Linked DNA regions of Homo sapiens: region 2 is linked to region 1. A link means that fine-mapping ties the variant in region 1 to the expression of a gene that starts in the linked region. Tissue or cell type: thyroid. Region 1 holds a variant in brackets; the other region holds the start of a gene. All regions are shown on one strand. Distances are between the middles of the regions.

The links. PIP is the estimated chance that this variant, and not a neighbour inherited with it, causes the effect.
Region 2: it holds the start of ARHGEF16, and the variant in region 1 is fine-mapped to the expression of ARHGEF16 in thyroid (GTEx, PIP 0.97).

Annotation. Positions count from the first base shown.
Region 1 is chr1:3,479,197-3,483,695 of GRCh38, forward strand. It overlaps ARHGEF16 (Rho guanine nucleotide exchange factor 16), which reads left to right. Exons shown (of 15, transcript NM_014448.4): 13 at 321-394; 14 at 616-717; 15 at 1,252-1,917. The coding sequence ends at 1,391. Among named protein-coding and RNA genes, the nearest start is that of ARHGEF16, 27 kb to the left of the region's middle. RefSeq lists an enhancer at 3,899-4,499. The variant G/C (reference allele first, on the strand shown) is at 2,145.
Region 2 is chr1:3,452,730-3,456,729 of GRCh38, forward strand. ARHGEF16 (Rho guanine nucleotide exchange factor 16) reads left to right here and starts at 1,936. Exons shown (of 15, transcript NM_014448.4): 1 at 1,936-2,082. RefSeq lists an enhancer at 18-770.

The DNA of each region.
Region 1 (4,499 bases):
TTTCCAGATGAGGATGCTGAGGCTGAGTCTGTCACAGCAAACGGAGGGGGCAGGGAGCTGGGGCCCAGTGCCAGGAAACGGGGTGGCCTCAGGTCCAGCAGGCTGGGGTCTGGGTGTGTGGCCACTACCCAACTCTGTGACCTGGGGCTGGGGTGACTTGGGGGTTAGCCTGCCTGGCACAGTCTGCCCAGCCACTCCTGCCCACCCCCACCACCCCCATCTCCTTGCCACGGCCCCCATGGGTGGCTGTCAGAAGTCAAGGAACATCAGACGGGCAGGATCGGTCTCCAGGCCTGGCTCATGCTGTCTCTGGTCCCCAGGAGTGACCGGGCACGGTGGATCGTGGCGCTCACACACAGTGAGAGACAGTGGCAGGGCCTCTCCAGCAAAGGAGGTGAGTGCGGGCTGGGGCCTGCAGGGCTGGCCCTCTGCCGTGGCTGGCACTTTGGCCCCCACTGTAGCCCAAGTGAGCCTGGCACCTGGCCTTGTGCTGGGGCCTGGCAGTCGGGGGATGGGGTGCCCCGGCCCCGGGGGATGTGTCTGCTGGAGGCCGTTGGGGAGTGGAGCCTGGCCCATGCCTCCCGACAGCCCTGTGATGGCCACTGCCCTATGCAGACCTGCCCCAGGTGGAGATCACCAAGGCCTTCTTCGCGAAGCAAGCAGACGAGGTCACACTGCAGCAGGCGGACGTGGTCCTGGTTCTGCAGCAGGAGGATGGTGAGTGCAGGGGCGTTGGGCACAGATGGGTGGGAACGGACAGGCGGGCGTGAGTCAGCGTCCAGCCTGGCCAGGTCCAGAGCATGCCGGGCTGCAGGCTGACCATGTGCTCACCCTCTCTCGAGGGCTTCCTCAAAGGGAGCACTCCCACATCCCCAAACCTCAGAATCAAAAGCAGGTTCATGGTCACTGTGTCCCACGTGGGGAGGAGGAGGTGTCTCTGCCCTCCCAGGGGATCCCCGCTCAGCCAGGCCCAGCACGAGCCTGCAGAGGGCAGGCAGGGCTCCTCCTCATGCCGGGCAGCGCTGTGTGGGGTGTGCTCAGCCCAGCACCCTTCTCAGTGGCGAGCACCTGAGCAGGGGCTGGGTGCCCGGTGACCATGAGCAAGGCCTCAGCAGCTGTCTGCTCTGAGCAGGAGCAGGTGGTCAGTTCTAGGAGAAGCCTGGCCCTGGTGTGCTCAGGCATAGCAGCTCAGAGGGGCCGGGGGACCCACGGCCTTCCCCTCACCTCCCTCCCACCCCTATCCGGGTTCAGGGTGGCTCTATGGCGAGAGGCTCCGGGACGGAGAGACGGGATGGTTCCCCGAGGACTTTGCCCGCTTCATCACCAGCCGTGTGGCCGTGGAGGGCAATGTCCGCAGGATGGAGCGTCTGCGGGTGGAGACGGACGTGTAGCCCTGGCGAGGCCAGCCGGCGGCAGCACAGCCTGTCTCCAATCAGCAAGTGGTCGTGCCTGGCTCTAGAGAGCGTGGGGAGCTGGTCTCAAGGACCCAGCATGGTTCCCTGGGGCTTCCCAAGAGCCTGTGGCTGTGGTGCCGGGCTCCAGACACTTCACGGAAGGAAGATCACATGTCCCCAGAGAGGCACCCCCAGGCAAGCTCGAGGGGGCCACACCGTGTCCCAGGGAGCCCAGCCTATTCCCGTTGGCTGGCTGGGCCCCTCAGCTGCTGGGCCCCACCTCCCCACTGCACCCAGGGGGCAACTCCACCTGGACTGATGGGCACAGGAGGCACCAATAGCGATTATTGGGGGCAATGCGAGGTCTCCTCCTATGCCCTTCCTACCCCTGAGTGGGACAAGAAGGGCCCTGAGTGCCCAGGAGTGCCCCACGTTCTGAGAAGGGGCCGGCCGGAGGGAGGGGACCCGGCAGGGAGATTTCGGTTTTGAGGTTTCTAAATACATTAAAGTTATTTCTTAAGAACCTGGATTTTCACAGTGACTCTGAGCCCAGGCAAAGACCGTGGCCACACATTTTCCAGGGACATACTCAGGATGCCGCGGGCCGGCACCAGGCCCCCTGTGCATGGCCCCCTTGTGTTGGGTGCCGTGTCATGTGTGGTCGCCCCAAGCTCGCCCCTGGTGTGGCCAGTCTGCCCACCGGCTGGAGCACTGGAGCAGGGCCAGCGGCCCCTGATCGTGTACTGAGAA[G/C]CCAGGGGCGGCACAGCTGCGCCTTGCAGGGCCCAGGCTGGCCAGTGGTTTAGAGGACTCCGGGATTCAGTAGAGCTTTTGGGGATCCCTCTGCAGTGTCCCCAGGGTTGGAGACAGGCCCCACCTCCCTCCCAGTTTTTCCTCCCAGCCATCTCGTCCTGGGAGCTGCAGGCAGAAGAGGCAGTCCCTGAGCCAGTCGGCTGACCTGGGGTGGCACAGCAAGAGGAGGACTGGTCCTCTCTGTCCCAGGAAGCCCCCACCAGCCCTCCTGTGTCCGACGCCAATGCCCGTTGCCTTTGTGGGCTTGGGTAATGCTGTCCTCAGGGAGGGAGCACCCAGCATACACCTGAGAATCTGCCCTGATCCTCCTGGGTCTGGGGCCCTGGCTTCTGCAGGAAAGTCAGGGGTGCATCTACCCCATATGCCAACCAGAAATGGTGATAGGAGACTGCCCTCCACCCCTCCCAGGCTTGGGGCAGCTGCAGGACCTGGTGCATGAGAGGTGGGGTGGGCTGAAAGAACACGCTGCTCCCAGCCCCCGCCTGCTGGACCAGGGCTTAGGGGAGGAGGCGAGGTCTGGAGGGCCGTGCAGTGCGAGGAGGGCCAGCTCCTCTCCCGGTCACCTCCATGGCCTTGGGCAGCAGCAATGGCCCAGTCCAGGCTCGGAGCCCACGCAGGACTGTCCTGGGCAGGGCTTTGGTCAGCGGCCGCCTCGCAGGGCGGGGCACAGCCAGGGCTCTGGGAAAGAGGAGGCACCTGGGAGCAGAATCCCCTGAGATGGGGCCAGCTCCTCCACGCCCAGCGTGGCATCTCCAGCCTCCGCTGTCCTGCCTGTGAACTGGTTACTCCCTGGGCTTTTCCTGGAGCTCCTGTGGGAGCAAACTGGCAGCCAGGGCAGGGCATGTGTGTTGGCAGGTGGTGTGTGCATGTGTGCTAGCATGCCTGTCTCTGTGTGTGCGTGTGTGTTGGGGGGCGGGGGGGCGGGTAGCCAGGGGGCAGCAGTTTCGTGTAAACCCAGCTGCCCTGCAGCCTCCGGGCGGTTCTCACTGCCAAGTTCATGCTCAGCTCACGGAGCAAGGCGGATCTGGAAAGCCTGGCCTCTGACTCTGTGACCTCACTCTCACGTATGTGACCTGGGGCAGGTGACTCAGCCTCTGCGCCTCAGTTCCGTCTGCAAGTGGCTACAGCAGCCTCTGCGTTTTAGCGGGCAGTGAGAATGCTCAGCCTGCAGGGAGGGGGTCCGGGCCCAGGCTGGGTGGCTGTCCTGCTATGGCAGTGGCCAGGCTGTTGTTGGGGGCATCTGGGGCAACCTGGGGAGGGCCCAGTTCAGGCCTGCTCAGGACGAGAGCCCCTCCCGGCAGAGTCAGGAAGCGCAGGCCTGGGCTGCCAGTGAGGTGTGGGCCCAGGCAGGGGCGAGACCTATGGGCAGGAGGGGCGTCAGGAGAGGGGGCCACAGGCTTGTGTAGCCCCGTCCCCAGCACCAGTGCCAGCTCACGCCCGTCCGAGGGCCCCTGCTCAGCCTGGGGTGCCGCCTTCACTGGCCCAGGTGCTATGGCCCCCTCAGCAGGACAGAGCCAGCCTGGACCCCCAGGACGATCACCCCCTCCCCGGGGTCTTCTTGCTCACTCTCCTCATGGAACCTCAGCCTGTCCCGTACTTCCAGTGTTGGGGTCCAGGGACACTTCCCCGCCCACAGTCAGATAATAGGGCTCCTGCGGGGGCTCTGCCACACGGGCTCAGCTGGAGAGGGGTCCCAGGAGACAGACAGGGCTTACCTTGCTCAGCCCTCCTGTGCAGCCACATAGCCTGGGTAGCTCTCTGGCTGCACAGACCCTCCTGTTGCAGGGGGTGAAACTGAGGCCCAAAGACCCTCTTCCCACTGCAGGGGGCTATCAGGGCTCTAAAGACACCCGTCTAGCCAACAAGGCCTGTGCCCCGAGTAGGTTGCCAGGGTGCCCACAGTGCTTGGTGTCCCAGCCCATCCTTCAGGCCATTGTTGGCCTGGGGTGCTGTGGGGGCTGTGTGGATGCAGGGCAGTGGGAGGGGGCTGCTGCTGAGGCCTTGCGCCCAAGCCCTGTCCCCAAGGCCACCCTGGGCAGGATAGCCCAGGCCGAGGGCTGGGGTTCATCTTGGCAAACTTCAGTGCCCAGCCCTGGGCGGGCACAGAGTGGACACTGCTGGGTCCAGACAGGCACCACCTAACCTTTCCTGCGGCCAGGGGAGCAAGGGGGGTGTGGTTCACAGGAGCACAGAAGCCACGCGGGAGTGGCCGCCCCAGCTAGGCCGGGACAGCCATCAGACTCGACAGGCCACCGGTCCCTCCGTCCAGCCAGAGATGGGACAGGCCACCAGTCC
Region 2 (4,000 bases), 27 kb before region 1:
GAAGTGCCACGGGCCGACCCCACTGGCAGGCCTCCCACTGGCAGGCCTCCCCGGAGTCTCTCTCTCCTTGCGAGCCCCTTAGGTCTCCAAGCTGGTTCCTTCCAACCTCTCCCTTAGGCCTCATGCCAGGGCGATCTCCTGCGCCAGCATCAGGCCCTCATTTACAGCAGAGGTGACAGAGGCACAGAGAGGTCCTGACGCCAGCTCAGGTGACATCCCCAGCAAAGGGACCATCCCAAGCACACGCTGAGTGGCCTCTGGAAGCCAGCAGGACATGGGGAGACGAAGCCAGACCCAGGGTGGCTGAACGGGCCCAGCAGGGGCTGGACAGAAGGTGTGGGGTTGGGGGTAACTTGGAGGCAGCTACTGAAAGAGGGTTTTACAGGAAAGCACTCAGTGGGAATCAGGAACCTGGGTCCTGCTGACTGGCCTGGGGCAAGGCTTCTGTCCCCTCACTGGGCCTCAGTGACCCCACCGCACCTCAGTCCCCTCACGGGTCAAGGCTCCGGGACACCCCAGCTCCCTCCGGCAGGCCGGGCCTCGTCGGTGCAGTACCCATCATGGACTCAGGAGGGCAGCAGCCACCTGCCTTTCCCAAGAGCTGCCTGGAAGTGGAACCTCCCCACAGGCGGCTCCAGGTGGAGGCTGCAGCCCACAGGGGTCAACTCTTAGCTCCTCCCTCATCCACCCTCCCTCCCAGGGGATGGATGGCCCACGGGACCCATCCCTGAGGCCAGCCTGTGCCCTGCCCAGATGGCACCTGACACCCAGGCAGCCCCAGCCACAGGGCAGACATTGGGGGACTAGTGGGTGGGGCGACCAGAGCAGGAGGGGCAGGGCAGGCCGCCCCTCTACCTATGACACCTGAGAAAATGCCAAGTGACAGCCCCAGAGCCTGTGGTGTCTCCTCAACCCGCAACGGGATCTCACGGCCGCCCAGGCCAGGGAGGCAGGTCCTGGGAGGAGGGTGGTCAGTGCCTCTGGCTGGCACACCGGTGCCCGGCCCACGACCCCAAGGCCTGGGGTCAGTGAGGGGACGCTGGTAGAAGCTGACCCAAAGCCCAGTGTGGATGTTCACATGGAGGCCTTTGGCAACAGGCCTTTCCTGAAAAGGGGATGATGGAGGCAGGTCAGAAGTGGGTCTGAGCCCTGGGACCTCAGGTCACATTCCTGAATGGCCAGGCCCAAGCTTGGGAGGCTTGGCTCAGCCCCCAGCCCCTCCCACAGCACCAGGTGGCCTGATTCCTGAACCCCCAGCTGGGGGGCTGCTGCAGCCTCTGCCCGGGGCCCTCCCTCACTTTCACACGGGTTCCCAGCAGGCGGAGCAAGGAAAGGCCAGGCTCGGAGTCCAGGCTCAGCCTTGTGCACGAGGGCGAGCGCCTTCCTTTCCAGGACTCGGTCCTTCTCTGTGAAATGGGGATGACCGCGACTCAACCACACCAAAAAGGTGGCCAGAGTGCTTTGCGCCCTCTTGGCTGTCTTTGGCCGCCTGGCTTCCAAGAATCCAGAGGGCCGGGCCTTTCTACAGCAAACATCGGTCCCCGCAGGGCTGGTCTCCTTCCCCGAAGGCTTCCTGGAGGAGGCAGTGGAGCGGGGCCTGGAAGGACAGTGACGCAGGAGGGAGCCGAGCCGCTCTGGCCCCACGCCTGGCAGGCGACTCCCGGGCCGGCCTCGAGGGGGCGTGGGCGCGGGGAGGGAAGGCGCAGGCACCGGGCGGCGGCGGCTCGGCGGGAATCGAGAGGCGCGATCCAGTCCGGGCGATCACGTGGGCTCCAGCCGGCCCAGGTGGGGCTGTGACCTGTGACGCAGGCGGCGCCGCCACAGGTGCCCGGGACGCGCCCCGCCCCCTCCCCGGCCCTCCCCGCCCGGGCCCTCGGACCCGGAGCAGCCCCGCCCGCCCAGCGCCCACCTGCGGGGCCGCAGCCGCCGCCCTCCAGCCAGACCGCGCAGGAAGCGGAGGAGGCGCCCCGGGCCGGACCGCGCTGCCGCAGGAGCGAAGCGGCTGCAGGACAGGACAGGACCCGGCGCTGGAAGCTGCACCGCCAGCGCGCCGCCCCTCCGTCCCTCCGCCCCGCGGCGCAGGTGAGCCTGGGGGACAGGTGAGCCGGGGGACAGGTGAGTCGGGGCTCGGGGGAGCCGGGTGGGGGGATTAGCCCGGGGGAGGCGCCGGGAACCCGGGGCGCTTCTCCTCCCCCTCGCTTTTCCCGCAAGCCCCGCCCCGGCAGCCGCAACAACTTCGCGACCCTCCTGGGGCTCCGCCGGGGCGGGAGAGGCGGGGCTCGCGGGCTGAGCCGGATGCGACTTTGGACCCGCCCCCCCACACACACCAGGCAGCCCCCTGCTTGCCCCCGCCCGCTCGCTCGCTGCCCTCTCTTGACCCCGAGTGGCCGCTTCCTCTTCCTAAAGGAAAACTTCCATGCAACCGGAACCTGGGTTCAGACTTGAGCGCCGAGGACTCTGGAAGCCCCAGGGAGTTTGAAAGAGCATGGGGTGGGGGGCGGAACAGAACGACCCTCCCGGGAGCTCTTTGGGGAATCTGACACCCAAACCTGCTTTGGCCCCAAAATTTCAGAAAAGCCCCGAGAAGGAAGAACCCCACACCCAAGACAAACCCAAACCATACGCCCCTCCCCCACCCTTGACCTTGGTGGGCGGTGGCAGGGAGGGACCTGCTTTGTCTCCCCTGAGAAGGGAGATGGGGAGGGGGAGGGGTGCGTCCCACCTACCAGGGAGCCGTGGCCGCTTGTCTTGGCCGCTCAGCCTCTTTCTGCGTCTGTGAAATGGGAACAGTATCCCTTTTGAGATTTGAGCAGGTGGGGGGACTGAGGGAGTGGCAGCGATGGCAGGTCTTGGTGACCTCTGCTTCTGACCTGAATCAAGGCCTGAATCTTCTCTGTGTCCTTGAGGGGAACAGTCTGTGCACCACCTAACATGGGGGCCTAGGGGGTGCGTGTGGGCCTGGCTGGGGGTCCAGCAAGAGGGTCCAGGTGCTGTGCCTGGCTGCAGGTCCTGACCCCTCCGTGGCATAGTTCCCAGGTGTGTGGGTTTCAGGCTCACATCCTGGCTCTTTGTGAACTAAGCAGCTCTTGGGGCCTCGGTTTCCTCATCCGTAAAATGGGACTAGTAGGAGTGTTGAGTTAGAAGATGTTGACCCACAAGTGTGCCAGGCAGACGTGGACCCTGCTGTGCGATGCCCACAGCCAGCAGAGGGGAACAGGGTGAGATGAAAGGTACTGTCCAGAGCAGGAGCCATGGGCTGAAGGTAGGCACTCCTCACCCACCCCAGTCTTGCTGGAAGGGAGGTGTCTTGGGGGCTTCCTGGAAGAAGTAAGTCACCTGGACCAAAGTCACCTGGAGGGTGGGATGGGCCCTCCCTCCACCTGGACACTGGGGAGAAACCCTTGTTGGGGGGCCTCCCTGAGGTCGCTGGCTCTTCGGGGGCCATCTCTGACCCACAGGACCACCCTATGTGGGAAGCACTTTCCACCTACACATGAGGAAACTGAGGCACAGAGGTGAAGCAGTGAGAAGCGGCGTGCCAGGGTCCCCACAGCTCACATGTGACGCGCAGGTCCCCATCCTGAGGATGGCCATCTGTGTTCACGTTGTGATCCAGGCGCAGGCGCTCCCCGCGAGTTTGGGTCTGAGTTTTAGTTTTGGTTTCCAGATGGATCTGGGCTGCTCCTGTCCTTAGCACAGGGGACCATCCGTCTGGAGCAGCGTCCTTATTTCTAGTGACTCCCTGGCTGAGGCCAGAACCCCCACTCCCCCCGGTCCCCATTTGGGGACAGCCATCCAGGTCAGGACAGGGCCTGGCCAGCAGTCCCACCCCCGCAGGCCACATTCCCTCTGCACCTGGTTTCCTTACCTGCCCGGGAAAATACCCACCTTCCAGAAGTTTGGGGAGGGGCAGAAGACAGTGGATGACAGGGCATTCAGAGGGCACTGTCTGTGTGTCTGTCCTACAGCGGGTGAACGGGTGGCAGGAGACCTGTCACCC